Linked DNA regions of Homo sapiens: region 2 is linked to region 1. A link means that fine-mapping ties the variant in region 1 to the expression of a gene that starts in the linked region. Tissue or cell type: thyroid. Region 1 holds a variant in brackets; the other region holds the start of a gene. All regions are shown on one strand. Distances are between the middles of the regions.

Region 1 (8,355 bases):
GTCCGACATACAGCTCCCACACAAGGAGTCCGTAACTCAGCGGCTGCTCTCAAAAGTGGGCCAGCACTGCCACTGCATCCTACATTAGGTGGCTGCCATCGGACAGGCTGCCCAAAGCCTCAGGGCCCTCTTGCACTGACTGTGGGAGCTTGACCCTGGCTAGCCACATCCCTGGTCAATTAGCATGAATGACAGATGCTTAAAAATATAACCACTGCCCCAAACGACATTCAGATAATACTCTTCTTATATAAAGACCGAGGGAATTACTGGGCTTTCAGTTTCTTTCCCCACCAAAGTTCATGATACTTAACCATTAAGAAACAGGCAATATATACCACTTCATCTTTTTCAAGGAGGTTAAAAAAATCATTAAAGATAATTTTTTAAAACCCTAGTTATTTATGTAGGACCAGGACTTTATTAGCTGGCCGCTTTGATCTTGACTTTTTTTAAGACAAAATCATGACATCATTTAAAAAATCACTGGTTTTGTTACCCTGATACTTACTTCACGCCTAATCTCACTCCATAAGTGACCATCCCTCACACATAGGTTGAGAGTGAGCAATGGGATCAGGGTCAAGAATCCACTATAAATAATTGTTTTACACATTTAGAAATGTTTTTAAAGCTAAACATTTATCTGTTTGCTTTTAGATAGTGTCAAAATGCAAGTAGCATTTATTTTCTCTCTCTTTCTACATCACGTCTTCTGGAAAAATCATGCTCTCAGGTTGAAAGTTGGTGGTGGTGGCAATAGCAATGCCAGTCACCAAAGAAGGAGCTGTGGCAGTGGGCATTGAGAGGAGAAGAGATTGGACCTGAAAGAAAAGAGAATGAGCTCTAACATAAGCCTTGAGATATGGAAGATGAAGGAAAGTGAGCCCAGGCCCCAGGGCTGCATTTTGAGGTGTGTATCTATGAGGCAGAAGTAGGCTGAGACATAGGAAAGAGGGGATAAAAACTTGTGGCCTGCAGGACAGATCAATGCACGTAGGCAGCTCAGGTAGGAGGTGACTTTGGCCATTCTTCAAACTGATGTTATTTAAATATCTGTTCAGTGTTTATGAGAAGTTGGCTGCTCTGATGGGTAGACAAAGAGGGTTGTTGGAGACAGTGCTAGTCTTTCCTTTACCACCCAAATAGCTCAAGCCTGAAGCCTGCATTTGCCTGGACCTACACCTTCAGAAGACATATTAGTGAGCATCTACTGCAACTTGAGCTATTTGGGAATGTCATCACTTCTTCAGGTATTATTTCCAACCATATGTAATGTTCTTCTAGAAAGTTATACAGATTAATAGGTTCCTCCACCTCAATGTTTTAGTACCCTTTATTGATTAGTTCTCTGGAAATCTGTCCGGCCAGCCTGATCCTTATTCAGCCTCTGATGTATCATCTATTCAGCAAAAACTATATTGACCCATGAGGCATCCTCGGTGGGTCCCCCCCTGGCATGAGTGACTCACAGGGTGGAGTGTGATGAAAGCAGCAGAATGCCAGTGTCTCTGAAGTGTACTGGATTCAAATCATGATACAAACTCATTTTTATTCTAGAGTTGATGGAAGCATTGTTCAGGACCTATTTTTTTACCAAGATGGATATTTTGAAGTGTAGTATAATCGGGAAAACTGAGTTTTGGAACACAGGCTTCAAATAGACTTACATTTAAATGCTATCTCACCTTTATCACTTGTGTGGCCTTAGGCGAGTAATGAACCCTTCTATACCTCATTTTCCTATTCTGTCATATGGGCATAATAGCTATTTCACTTCTGTGAAAATTAAGTGGAAAACACACTAGAACTGGGGTCTGGCATATAGGCAATGTGCATGGATTTGTTGGGACAGACGTTGGTAGGGTGATAGGCCTGGGCTCTGGGAAGCTGAGGGAAACCCAGCCCTTGCTGTATGGAGTCTCTGCTAAGATGAGTAGGTGGCCCCTGTAGGAACATGACCCCTGCCCGCAGCCCACCTCAACTGGCTGGAGGCAGGGGCAACTCTGTGCATTTGGGCCTGCGCCTTTCTCTGTTGTCTCCAAGTCTTATTTGCACTCTGGTAGAGAGTTTTCATGGTGTGTGTGTGTGTGTGTGTGTGTGTTTGTATATTTTTTATTGTGGTAAAATGTACATCATAAAATTTATCATTTTAACCATGTGTAAGTATACAGTTCAGTGGCTATTAAGTACATTCACAGTGTTGTGCAACCATCTCTACTGTCTATTCCAGAATGCTGGCATCACCCCAACTAGACACTCTGTATCCATTAAACAATTTCCCCTCCCCCCAGTCCCCGGCAATGCTCGTGGAGTTCTTTAATCCCCAGTAAAGAGAGTAAGTGGCTCTGACAGTGAGCAGGAGCCCACTTGAAATCTCCTATTCCAAACCTACCTCTGAGTTTTATGACTCATTTGGAAGCCACTCCCTAAAAGCTGCGGGGAGCTCAAAAGCACATCTGGATGTGTGGCCCCTCTGCCTGACAGCCCAGCAGTACAGCCATCTTCCCACCCCCAGCCCGCCTAGCTGTGGCCCTGCAACCTCCTCAGCGTGAGGAGTTCAGCTTTCTTTTCTTTCTCCAGAACCAGTCACACCTCCCTCAGCTATTTCTGTAACTGCTAGAATGGAGAAATACACAGAGCAGAGACAGGATACGGGTCTGATGCCCATGACTGGATATGAAATCTAAGAGACAGTAAAAGAAAAACCCATTTTAAAAAGGGATCAGCTCAATTCCTAAAATCCACCCATCCGCACTTTGAAAATACAAAAAAAAAAAAAAAAAAAAAAAAAAAAAGGAGGTCTGATGGCTCTGATACCTGGAAGGGATTAAATGCTAAAGATAGCCTGAGGCATTGAGAATGCTGAGGGAGTGCTCAGTTCATGAAGCTGAGGGCAGTAAAATCTGGTATTAAATGCTAACAAGAGAGGAGTTCTTACAGAATGTTCAGTATCTGTGAGTCACTGGGACCTTCCTCCATTAAACGTGAAGCAATATTCTTTAATATCAGCAGGATTACAGATCTTACTGTCCAACCCAGTGTGTTAAGAAAGCACTATATGCCCAGTAAAGGATGCAAACTGACCCGAAATGATGGAAATGAACGATGGATTAGATTCTCTAATGCCTCCCTGTTTTGAGTGAAGCCATGCTGATGGCCAGGTGACATTTGCAGGGCCATCTGGTGACATTTCTTTTTGGGAACAGATTAATAGAGACTGAGGAGGGGGGTAGAGTTGGTACAGGGACCAACACAAGATTTTCAGGTGGCTTCCTGGAGTTGTATATGTCTTTGAAGGGGGAGGTCCTGTAGTTTTTCTAGGAGAATGTGGCCAAACCATAATTGTTAAACATTGCATGACCTGATGGGGGACTCCCTCTGTGCAGAAAGAGTTCCTTTAAATTCTGAAAGCATGAATTAATATAAAATCCAAGTATTCAGGAAAGTCCCTTGTTAGAAAAGGATGTCTCCCCCTTCCCCTCACTCCTCCAGGAACAGAGGGAAATAAATGTAGCTAGAGCAGAGTCGCTGTTTCACGGAATTGCTTCCTGCTCTGATGCCACAGACTTAGCCTTCTGCCAGCCTGTGGTTTCCTCCTTCAGTTTCCATGGGCATTCTAGTGCTAGCACGGAGCCTGTCTGTTGAAAGAACAAATGCTTCAGGAGGCCTGAGACCACTCTTTCACGCTCTGTCCTCACTCAGTTCTTGATCC[C/G]TGTCTCAATCTGGCAGACACCAAAATTCCTTGTCCTGCTTCCCACTCCCTCAAAAAGCTGCTGGCCAAGGCTGTTGTGAAACAAGAGGAAACCTTTTCCTCTAGGCACAAGTAGAAGCACATATCCACAATCTTCCTGACTCCCCAGTTCCCACAGCATGCTTATTTGACAGCTGCCAGCCCCAAGATCCCTGAAGCTGCATATGAAACTTCCCCATGCTTTGATGGAAATAGTTCGGCTGGGCGCAGTGGCTCACATCTCTAATCCCAGCACTTTGGGAGGCTGAGGTGGGTGGATCGCCTGAGGTCAGGAGTTCGAGACCAGCCTGGCCAACATGGTAGAACCCCGTCTCCACTAAAAATACAAAAAAAATTAGCCGGGTACAGTGGCAGTTGCCCATAATCCCAGCTACTTGGGAGGCTGAGGCAAGAGAGTCGCTTGAACCTGGGAGGCAGAGGTTGCAGTGAGCTGAGATCGTGCCATCGCACTCCAGCCTGGGGGACAAGCGTGAGACTTCATCTCAAAAAAAAAAAATATTTTGATGAAAACGGTTTGAAAGCAGTATTGGTTAATTGATAAGTCCCAGCTTCTCTTCTGGGTACGCTGACTGTGACCCCTCAGCCTCCAAAGAGAGAAGACAGACAAGCTTCCTTTGAAGGCTGTGCTCTGCATTTTGGCTTGTTCAGGGATGCCTGGCTAGCAGGGAAGCCCTGATCTCAGCAAACATGGACAAAGGGAATGAAGCCCTGTTCAGGAACAGGGGCCCCACCCACCTGCAGAAATGGTCCTTTGAGACAAAACTTTGTGTTTAGTTTCCTTACTTAAACAAATTACAGCAAAGAAGCAGGCAAAATAGTGTCACAACCATATAAAAATTGCAAGTGAAGAACCATGGACAGAGATTATACAGGAAAGATATATCAAACTTTAACAGTGGTTACTTTAGGGCAGAGGGACTATAGGTGACTTTGTATCAGAATTATCTACTCTTCTGTTTTCATTCAAGTTTTCTGTATTGAGCAGACAGATTACATAATCAAGGAAAATCCAGCAAATTATTTTTGAAAAGTAAAACATTTTAAAATTTAAAAGGGACGCAAGTTGAAGTGAGACTGATTTTGTAGTTACTATAAAAGAAATCATCAGAGCAGTACACGCCAAAAGACCACAAGCTCCCTGAAGGCAGAGGCTCTTCCATATGCTCAGTACACAGCCCTGTTTCTTCCCTCCCAGAGAAGACAGAGACATCAGAAGGGCTACACTTGACTTCTTACCTTTGGATTCATAAATGTATTTGCACTTGCATTGGCCTCTCCCTCCCACTGCAACATGGGAAGAAGAGTTTTATCAAAAGCAAATCCGCCAACTCTGTTCTGGGTCCCATCCATTCGTGCCATCCGATGGGGTCTCAGCCACAGGAACCCCCTCTGCTGCTCATCCTCTCTTTCTTGCATCTCCAGGCTTCCCCACTACTGGCTCTTAGCTGTCAGTATTTAAATAATCTGTTTTCTCCCATTTTGAAAAATTCCTTCCCAATTTCAGTCCTCCTCTTCCCTTTTGCAGCCAAATGTGCCACGGAGCTATTTAAACATGCTGCCTCCTGTTCCTGTCATTTGCTTTCCAGTCTACTCTGTTCTGGCTTTGGTCCTTACTGCTCTATGGAAAGTTCCCTTACTAAAGCCACCAATGACTTTGCCGTCACATAATCCAGTGGGTTCTTTTCAGTCCTTTCTTCATCAACTTCAATGTAGCTTTGTCACTCTCTCAGTCAGAGTGACTCTGACCACTCTTGGTTCCTTGAAACATTCTTCTAGTGACTTCCATGATACAATCAACCAGTTTTCCTTTTACCTCTTTGGCTCTCTCTGCTCAGATTAAGGTCTTCTTTTCCATCTGAAGTCTAAACATTAGTATTCTTCAAAAACTGGACCTCTGTCCTCCTCTTTTATCACTCTACATTCTGCTAGTAAAGACCTTTGTCAACATCTATTTTTCAAATACCATAAACAGGATATGTTGACAATTTGTTAATTCATATTTCCAACTCAGGCCCTGCTTCTGAGCTCCAGCCTAGTCTATACAACTGTTTTTTGATTTTTTTATACTTGAATGTCTCACAGGTAGCACAAACTGAATATGTTAAAAATGGAACACATGATCTTACTTATACCAGAATACAGCCTATTCTTCACCTAATATTTCCCATCTCAGTAAATACCAACATCTGGAGTTTGCTCATGCTGAAAACCAGAAAATCATCCATCTTTGACCACTCTCTTTCTTCAATTCTCACATAAAATCAATCACTTCTGACAATGACAGAGAGGCAGGAAATGAATTTACTCTCACATTTTAAACAACTAAAAATCTGGACAAAATATATGAAACAATGATTGGACATCAGGTAATGAAGATATGTGATCCTTGAGTGACAGGAAACAAATGAGGCAAGAACTAAAACTGCCCATGTCACCACCTGGAGAAAGTTTCAGAGACACAGTACAGACAGGTGAAAACCCAGGCAGAGCCTAGTGGGCTCCCTCAGTTGAGGAAACGGACTTGGGAGTCTGGAGAGGCCATCCCCCCTAGAATTTGCAGGGTAGAGTACCAGAGAAGAGAACGATAAACAATGAGAGAGCTCGAGAGACCTGTCTTAGAAAATATTGCTGAGGGAAGGTAAAGACGATGTACTAAATGGAGAGAGATACACTGTTTGTGATGGGAAGACTCACTATTTTTAAGATTCCTATTATTTCCAAATAATAGAAAGTGATTCTATATTTAATGCAACCCCAATAAAAATTCAAGTGTGTGTGTGTGTGTGTGTGTGTGTGTGTGTGTAAAATAATGAGCTGATTATAAAATTCATATGGAAATGCAAAAGACCTAGATAACTAAAACAACTTTGACAAAGTAGGGTAAAGTTGCAGCACTTACACTATTTGATTTCAAGATTTATAAATCTGCAATCAAGACACTGTGATATTGGAGTAAAGCTAGACAAATAGAGCGATGGAAAAGAATAGAGAGTCCAGAATAGACTCATATATATGATCAATTATTTTCTTCAAAGGTGCAAAAGACAATTGTGTGGATAAAATATAGACTTTTCAACAAATGGTGCTGGAACAACTTTATAGTATACACACACATATGCATTCACAAGAAAGAACTTCAAACCATATCATACTATACATAAAAATTAACTCAAAATGGATTGTAGTTATAAATGCAAGAGCTAAAATGATAGAACTTCTAGAGTAAAACAGTAAAAAAAAATACTGTATAAATTTGGATTAGGCCAGGACTTCTTTGACACGCCACTGAAAACATACCCTATAAAAGATGAAATTGAGTAAATGGACTTGAGCAGAATTAAGAATGTCTCTCTTTCAAAAGAAAGTGTTAAGAGAATAAAAAGCCATAGCTTGGGAGAAAATATTCACATACCATATATTTGATAAAGGACTGGCATCCAGAATATTTTAAAAGCTCTCACAACTCAATAATAAAAACGAAAAAAAAAGATGGGGGATTTAGGAAGAGAGACTAGGGGAACTGGGCTGCATGCCTCCTCCTGGTGGAAATTAATGAGGAATGTGCCAAAGAAGAAGGAAATAATCAAGTGTGGAAGTGTTCACAATGGAAAGCTTCTCTTCCCCTCTTCTGCCATAAAGACTGATGTGGTTTGGCTGTGCCCCACCCAAATCTCATCTTGAATTGTAGCTCCCATAATTCCCATGTGTTGTGAGAGGGACCTGGTGGGAGATAATTGAATCATGAGGGCAGTTTCCAGCATACTGTTCTTGTGGTAGTGAATAAGTCTCATGAGATATGACGTTTTTATAATGGGTTTCCCCTTTCGCTTGGCTCTCATTCTGTCTTGCCTGCCACCATGTAAGACATGCCTTTTACCTTCCACCATGATTGTGAGGCCTCCCCAGCCATGTGGAACTGTGAGTCCATTAAACCTCTTTTTCTTTATGAATTACCCAGTCTTGGATATGTCTTTATCAACAGTGTGAAAACGAACTAATACAGTAAATTGGTACTGGGAGTGGGGCACTGCTGTAATAATACATGAAAATGTGGAAGTGACTTTGGAACTGGGTAACGGGCAGAGGTTGGAACAGTTTGGAGGGCTCAAAGAAGACAGGAAAATGTGGGAAAGTTGGAACTTCCTAGAGATTTGTTGAATGGCTTTGACCAAAATGCTGATAATGGACCATTAAATCCAGGCTGAGGTGGTCTCAGATGAAGATGAGGAATTTGTTGGGAACTGAAGTAAAAGTGACTTTTGCTATGTTTTAGCAAAGAGACTGGCAACATTTTCCCCCATTTTAGAGATTTATGGAACTTTGAACTTAAGGGAGATGATTTAGGGTATCTGGCAGAAAAAATTACTAAGCAGCAAAGCATTCAAGAGGTGACTCGGGTGCTGCTAAAAGTATTCAGTTTTAAAAGGGAAACACAGCATAAAAGTTTGGAAAATTTGCAGCCTGACCATGCAATAGAAAAGAAAAACCCATTTTCTAAGGAGAAATTCAAGCCTGCTGTAGAAATTTGCATAAGTCACAAGGAGCCAAATGTTAATCACCAAAAGAATGGGGAAAATGTCTCCAGGACATGTCAGAGACCC
Region 2 (6,930 bases), 96 kb after region 1:
TGGTACAGATGACAGACTGGGTGAGGCACTTCAGTTCCAACTGTGACTTAGGCTTATTTTTTTAAACCACAATTGCATCAAGTCCTCTGTGAACACCAAGTCAGGGAAATCTGGGTGCGGTACTCCCCCAACAGGGCACTATAACTACCTGGACAAAAAAGAACCTTTCTGATGGCTCAGGCCCGCTGGTCTGTGCCCTAGTCTTTCCACACCTCTGAAAAAATGAGTAAATTTCCTAGATGCAGGGTCACTTTGCTGTCCACAGGAAATTATATCTTTTTTCTCCTTTTATAACCAAAGTCCTTAGTTCAGCTTGAGAAAACCTAGCTATCACAGGGTGGCCGTGAATGGACAATAACAGAGAAAGCTGGGACATGGCATTCAGGTGGATTCCTTTCCAGAAAAAGAAGTCATCCATTTACCGAGATGACTCTCTCTAGGAACCCATGTCTCAGGGCTGCTGTGCATGGTTGTTCTGGTTCACACTATCAACAGCAGGGACATTATTCACACGGCGTTGTGTGGTGCAGCTTTTCTACTACTCAGCTTTTAGGGTTCCGAGATTAAAGACACTCTTGCTTCAGAGGGATGAAGACAAATGCATCTGATGTAAGAATTAATGTCGGCAAGGCAAGGAAGGAGGGAAATGAAGGGAGATTTGGAAATGAAGGGAGAAGTGTCCTGAAGGAGAGGGTGCACTTTGGATGTAATCTTTGGCCTCATTTCCTCTCACCTTGCACTCGAAAACCCCCACCCCTGTCCTCATGAGCTGGCTACTTTCCAACAAAAACCAAAGAGCCACAGGGGCATGGGGCTACTTCAAAACCCTTGTGTCCTAGTTTAAGAAAGCAGAGCACTGCTATCAGGAACTCAGAGCAGCAAGGTCGACTCCTATCTCTAGCTATTCCTCCGCCAAGGAATCAGATTTCCTCTTGTAAGAAGCCTACTTAGTGACTCTTTCTCAGGGGTTGCCTGGTGTAGGGGCTGAAGAGAATCTGAGAACACAGGATCCAGCTCCCGGATTAAAAGGAGTAGAAGCAGAAAACTGGCCAAAAAGATGTGATTCAGAGATAGGCCTCATCCATCTTCTCTTGTAAAGCCAAAGACAACTGCTTATGTGGGATAACAAGGAGAACTCGTGGTCTGGTCACAGGCAAGGAAGTGAGATGTTTCAATACTAATACTTGCTTTGGGCAAAGCATGCAAAATAATTGTCTTGCTTCTGCTGCTTAAGGACGAACTTCCCCGACTTAAGACATCTTCCTGGGACTCCAGCTTGTGAGATAAGGGACTGTGGTTTATTCAGCACATCACATCCAGCAATGAGATGCACATAGGCTGGACATTAAACCTCCCTGGAAACCACTGGGATCAGTATTTCTCTACCCAATTATCCACTTTGAAGTAATATATCAATGATCATTCAATAAACTTAGTTAATATAACCACCGGCAATGGAAAACAATATTTTTTTCTTTTTCAATAGGAAAAAAAAGCCTCTGGTAGGGAAAATCTGATATAAACTTTAAAATTTTAGCAGATGACTTCACCCCACACGACCATCTTGAATATATCAAGGATATGCTATTTAAGTCTGGCTCAGTGTGACACTCTTTATAAATCAAATAATTCTTTAATTTATCTTTTGGATAAATGGATTTTTATATAATAAATTGTTTTCAATTCGTACATCATAATTTGCAAGGCAATAGCTCATTTCCAATATTTATACATAGCAATATCAAGAGAAAGGCCATTTTCTCATCCCATTTTTAACAATCCAACCACAATATGCTGTTTTGGTAAGTACTTAGGTTGGGAGAATATTCGAGAAAACTATTTCTCCAGGTGAGAAACATCTCAAGCAAACATTGGAAGGAATGCATTTTCCAGTAGCCAGTAACGGATGAGACGACCTGGGAGACCCAGGGACCTCAGGAAAAGCAAATGGCTCCACTAAAACTCCCTCCTCCAACCTTAATTGGTCAAATGCCAAAATAAATGAACTTTCCAAAGTTAAGAGCTTTGCAACTTTCACTAGGAGTAACTACAGGTGCACAAGCCAGGACCGACGAGTCTACGAACCCCATCGTGGCCGGCGGTAGTCGCTGGTCGAGCCTAGCGCCCAGGCCCAGGCCACCTCCATGCCGTGCGACCCGCCGGGAACGGGTTCAGGCCCGTCTGCCCAAGGCCAGAAGCACCCTGTCCCCGGCCCAACGCCGGATCGCGTCCCGCCCTTCTCACCCCATACCAAGGAAAGGAACTAGACGCTTGGGAGAAAGGATGAGCAGCACCCGGTGGGATTCGGCCCCAACCCGGGGCCGTCCCCAACTCCCAACTTCCCAGAGTTTCCTTCGGCCTCGTCCCCCTTCCCACGGCTCCGAGGCCGCCGCGGCCTCCCCTCGCTCTGAGTGCAGATAGCCCGGGAAGTGGAGAGCGTAGCTCGGAGCTAGGGAGCCGCCCCCAGGAGCCTTGGCGATGGGAGCGCAGGTGGCGGGCGTGGTCCCTCCAACCCTGCCCTAGCCGACCCGGAGTCGGCCTCCGTGCAGTAGCCACCGCCCGGGTCCCCGCCTGGTTACAGCATCAGGCCACAGTGCGCTGGTTCTTGATCACTCTCCTGGCTCGGTGGCCGCCCCCCGCCCTCTCCCAGTCCGCGTCGCTGTTCTGCCTCAGGCCCCGGTGCGGCCCCAAGTCCCAGCCCAGGGCCCTTAGGTCCCTCCAGGCGGCGGTGGCGGCACTCACCTGGGTCGCGGAGCCGGGGTCTGGCACGGTCCCGCAGGTGGTAAATGAAATCCTGGCAGCTGTCGTGCTCCAGGGCCCCACGGGCACAGAGCTCGGCCAGCAGCTGCAGCGCCTGGTGACAGAGCGCGTCCCTGGCCCCGGGCATCGCCCCCCCGCATCCTCGGACCGCGCCGGGCAGGCGGGCGCAGGAGACAGCCCTCCGCCTGCCAGCTCAGAGCCGCCGCCTCCGGGCCGTCCGCGCTCACCGCCAGGGACCTGCCGAGAAACGGTGCGAGCCTGAGCCCGAGCCCCAGACCCAGCCGGCCCGGCCTCCCACCGGTTGCATGCAGCTCTTCGCCAGCCGGTCGGTCAGGCTTTCTCTCTCTCCCGCCCGGTCCCTCCGTCCCTCCCCAGACACCGAGGAGAGGCGGTGCCGCACAGCCCAGAGCGCCTCTCTGCTTGCGCTCCGCCCGCTACTCGCGGCCGCCGGGGGGCGGGGCCAGGTCAGGAGTGCGCGCCGCAGGGTAGGATAGCGGCGGCCCCAGACCGGGGACCTGGGGTACTCCCCGGCTCCTGGCCGAGCGCGAGACTTGGCTTGGGACCTCGCGCCCAGAGCGGCCGCGCCCTGGCTTGGGGAGTGTGAGTGAGTGCGCGCTCCGGGCGCTTTCGCTACTCCACCCCTCATCCCTGATGCAAACCAAGCACCCGCTCCCACCGCCGAGTGTGTCCAAAGCACGTTCTTGGATGCCTAGTGCGAAGGTTACAATCTGGGCACACCCGCCAGATGCGCAGAACCGAGTCCCTGCTTCGAACTTGGAAAGAGCCGCCTGGGTTTGAACCATGGGCCTATGGGTGTCAGATGCCCAAATGCAGGGTTTGGGTCCAAGATTCGCCAACAAAGGAAGGATTTCCCAAGCACAGGCCCTTTTCGACCACTGTGGTGATTTGGATGGAGAAGGTGGAGGCTCTAGGTCAGAACTAAGATCAAATAAATAAACGATTCCTGGGAAAGACCCTGAGGCTTACCTGGGCTTCGTGGGTCCCTTAGTTTTCTAAGCAACCGTTTGGAAATCCAAACATTGCCAAAGTGTCTTCAGCACCCAAGGAGGAGTATCACAGAATCTTGGAGAGTTGGAAGGAACCTCAGGGCACCTCTCATCCACCCATCTTTTCAGCCTTTCAAGCAGTAAAGCCTAGAAATAACCACGAAGTACTCTGGGTGTGTGTGTGTGTGTGTGTGTGTGTGTGTGTGTCACTGTGCCACAAGCCTTTTAGGTACATAATCTCATTTAATTCTGTACATAGCCCAACAAGGTCTGTGTAATTGTTATCCTCATTTTACCAATGAGAAACTGGGGCCTGGGGACTCACAAAGGTGTTACTTGCTCAAATTCATACATGATGAAGGTAGCTTTGATTTTCTCTCTTTCTTTTTTCTTTTTTCCTTCTTTTTCTTTTGTCTTTTTTGTAATACTGGTGTTCAGGCCCCCACTCTAGAGCAATTAGAGTAGGATCTCTAGAACTGGTAACTATCATTCTTAGCCATGAGGTTGTGCCGTCTCTACGGACATATCACAACAATTCATATTTGCACAGAAAGATAATTTGGGATCCTATAGAATGCTCACGCAACAGGCAACCTTTGAAATCCTGCTGTGAATGGTACTAGGGTTTCAGGGAACTTACATGGGAATAGCAGAGAAAATGCAAAGTTGTAAAGGTAAAGATGCCTCCAGAGAGTTGCAAAGAGACAAACAGAGGGAGGAGAAACCAGCTTTAAGGGAGCCTGTAGGGGAGGTTGAGCAGATGCTGTTTCTTCAAAGGGGGGAACCCCTAGAGAAGAAGAAAAAGGCCATGAACAGAGAAGGTGACACCAGAGATAGTGTGATGCTGGGGGGGGGTGGCGGGGGGGACATATAGTAATGGTGAGAAGGTATGTGTGTTGAAGCACATGGAAATATTACCCTAATGCCATCATGTCAGAGAGGAACTGAAAGCAACAAGTTCAGTTAAAAAATGACTTTGATAAACCAGGCAAGAGATGATGAAGGCCTAAACCAGGCCAAAGGCATTAGCTGATTGCTAGAAACATCCAAATTTGAAAAACATTTCAAGTATTAAGTGACAAGATTGCAACCAATGGAATAAGAAAGAAGTGAAAGGCACAAACGTTTCAAAACGTTACCTGGGTCATATGTGCTCACACCCTAATAACACTTAGAAATGCAAGCCTAGAGTTTAGGAGAGAGTGAAGACTGGCAATCATCATTGGAAAGGTAGAAACTGAGTTGCCACATGGGATGGTTCCTTCAAGAAAGAAGAGTTGAAGAAATGAAAGAGGAGATTGGAAGGTAGCAATGAGAACAGGAGGAAAGATTGTACAGAGGGGAGTCATAGGGATCACGGGAGGAGGAGTGTTTGGTAGAGGAGCGAGCAACATCAACTGTAAACTTTCAAATATAGTTTAAAGAGAAAAAACTAAAAAGTGTCCTTTGGATAAAGTAGACAGTAAGACATTCAAGATTTAGACAGACTAGTTACTATGCAACCAACCTTGTGCAAGTTAACATTTTTGTGCCTAGGGTTTCTCATCTTATCTCAAAGATAACGTGTATCTTTGGGCTGTTACAAAGATTACATAAAGCAATATATTTAAGTGCTTGTAATAGTGCTGCCACATAGTATGGGCTCAACCAATATGTGTTTTTGCTGTTTCTGTTATGTTTCTACTACAATGTACGAGGTGCTAAACACACTTTCTTAATCTATTACTTACAACATCCCAAAGTGGTTGATGCTATATTTCCTATTTTACAGGCAAAGAAAGTAAAATCAGGTGGTTAAACAATTTGTTCAAGGACAAATTGGTAGACTGTTTCCAAAGACAGCCATAGCTATCCCTCCAATTCCATGTGTCCTTTTGGAGTGTGATTTTACCACTCTTCCCATCAAGAAGTCAAGTCTGTTCCCCTCTGCTTGAATTTGGGCCTGCCTTGTGACTCACTTTATTCAACAGAATGTGTAGAAGTGAAATTCTGAGCTGAGTCTAGACTTGAAAAGATCTTGCAACTTTTACAGGATATCTTGCTGGAGAGGGGTCCAGAAGAATGAGAAACAATGTGGAGAAAGAATATCATACAGAAGGGAAGTGAGATACTGCTATAGAGTGAACTGTAAATTCTTATGTTGAAGCCCTAATTCCCGATGTCACTGTATTTGGAGATAGGACTTAATTAAGAGTAAATGAGGTCATAAAGGTAGAGCCCTGATCCAATAGGATTAGTTTCCTTATAAGAATCATCAAACCAGCTGGCTGTAAGTATTTGGGTTTATTTCTGGGTTCTCTATTCTGTTCCATTGGTCTGTATACCTATTTTTATACAACTACCATGCTGTTTTGGTGACTATGGTCTTATAGTATAGTTTGAAATCAGGTAATGTGATGCCTCCAGATTTGCTCTTTTTGCTTAGTCTTGCTTTGGCTATGTGGGCTCTTTTTTGGTTCCATATGAATTTTAGAATTGTTTTTTGTAATTTTATGAAGAATGATGGTGGTATTTTGATGGGAATTGTGTTGAATTTGTAGATTGCTTTTGGCAGTATAGTCATTTTCACAATATTAATTCTATCCATCTGTGAGCATGGGACATGTTTCCATTTGTTTGTGTCATCTCTGATCTCTTTCAGCAGTGTTTTGCAGTCTTCCTTGTAGAGGTCTTTCACCTCCTTGTTTAGGTATATTCCTAAGTATTTTATTTGGAAAGGACACCCTTTTCAACAAATGGTGCTGCAATAATTGGCTAGCCACATGTAGGAGAATGAAACTGGATCCTCATCTCTCACCTTATACAAAAATCAACTCAAGATGGATTAAGGACTTAAATCTAAGAGCTGAAACTATAAAAATTCTGGAAGATAACATTGTAAAAACTCTTCTAGACATTGGCTTAGGCAAGGATTTCGTGACCAAGAACCCAAAAACAAATGCAATAAAAACAAAGATAGATACATTTCTGGGACTTAATTAAACTAAAGAGCTTTTGCACAGGAAAAAAAAAACAGCAGAGTAAACAGACAACTCACAGAGTGGGAGAAAAATCTTCACAATCTATACATCTGACAAAGGACTAATATCCAGAATCTACAACGAACTCAAACAAATCAACACGAAAAAAACAAACAATCCCATCAAAAAGTGGGATAAGGACA

Alleles and levels. Positions count from the first base shown, and alleles are read on the strand shown. Sizes are in standard deviations (SD) of each study's normalised expression.
For the expression in thyroid of the gene that starts at base 3,170 in region 2, allele C in region 1 goes with a lower level than allele G (moderate effect, 0.49 SD a copy in GTEx).

Evidence for each region. PIP is the estimated chance that this variant, and not a neighbour inherited with it, causes the effect.
Region 2: it holds the start of SYT9, and the variant in region 1 is fine-mapped to the expression of SYT9 in thyroid (GTEx, PIP above 0.99).

Annotation. Positions count from the first base shown.
Region 1 is chr11:7,343,132-7,351,486 of GRCh38, reverse strand. All of the region lies in intron 3 of SYT9 (synaptotagmin 9), which reads right to left. Among named protein-coding and RNA genes, the nearest start is that of SYT9, 95 kb to the right of the region's middle. The variant C/G (reference allele first, on the strand shown) is at 3,716.
Region 2 is chr11:7,248,144-7,255,073 of GRCh38, reverse strand. SYT9 (synaptotagmin 9) reads right to left here and starts at 3,170. Exons shown (of 7, transcript NM_175733.4): 1 at 2,743-3,170. The coding sequence starts at 2,887. RefSeq lists a silencer at 3,138-3,277.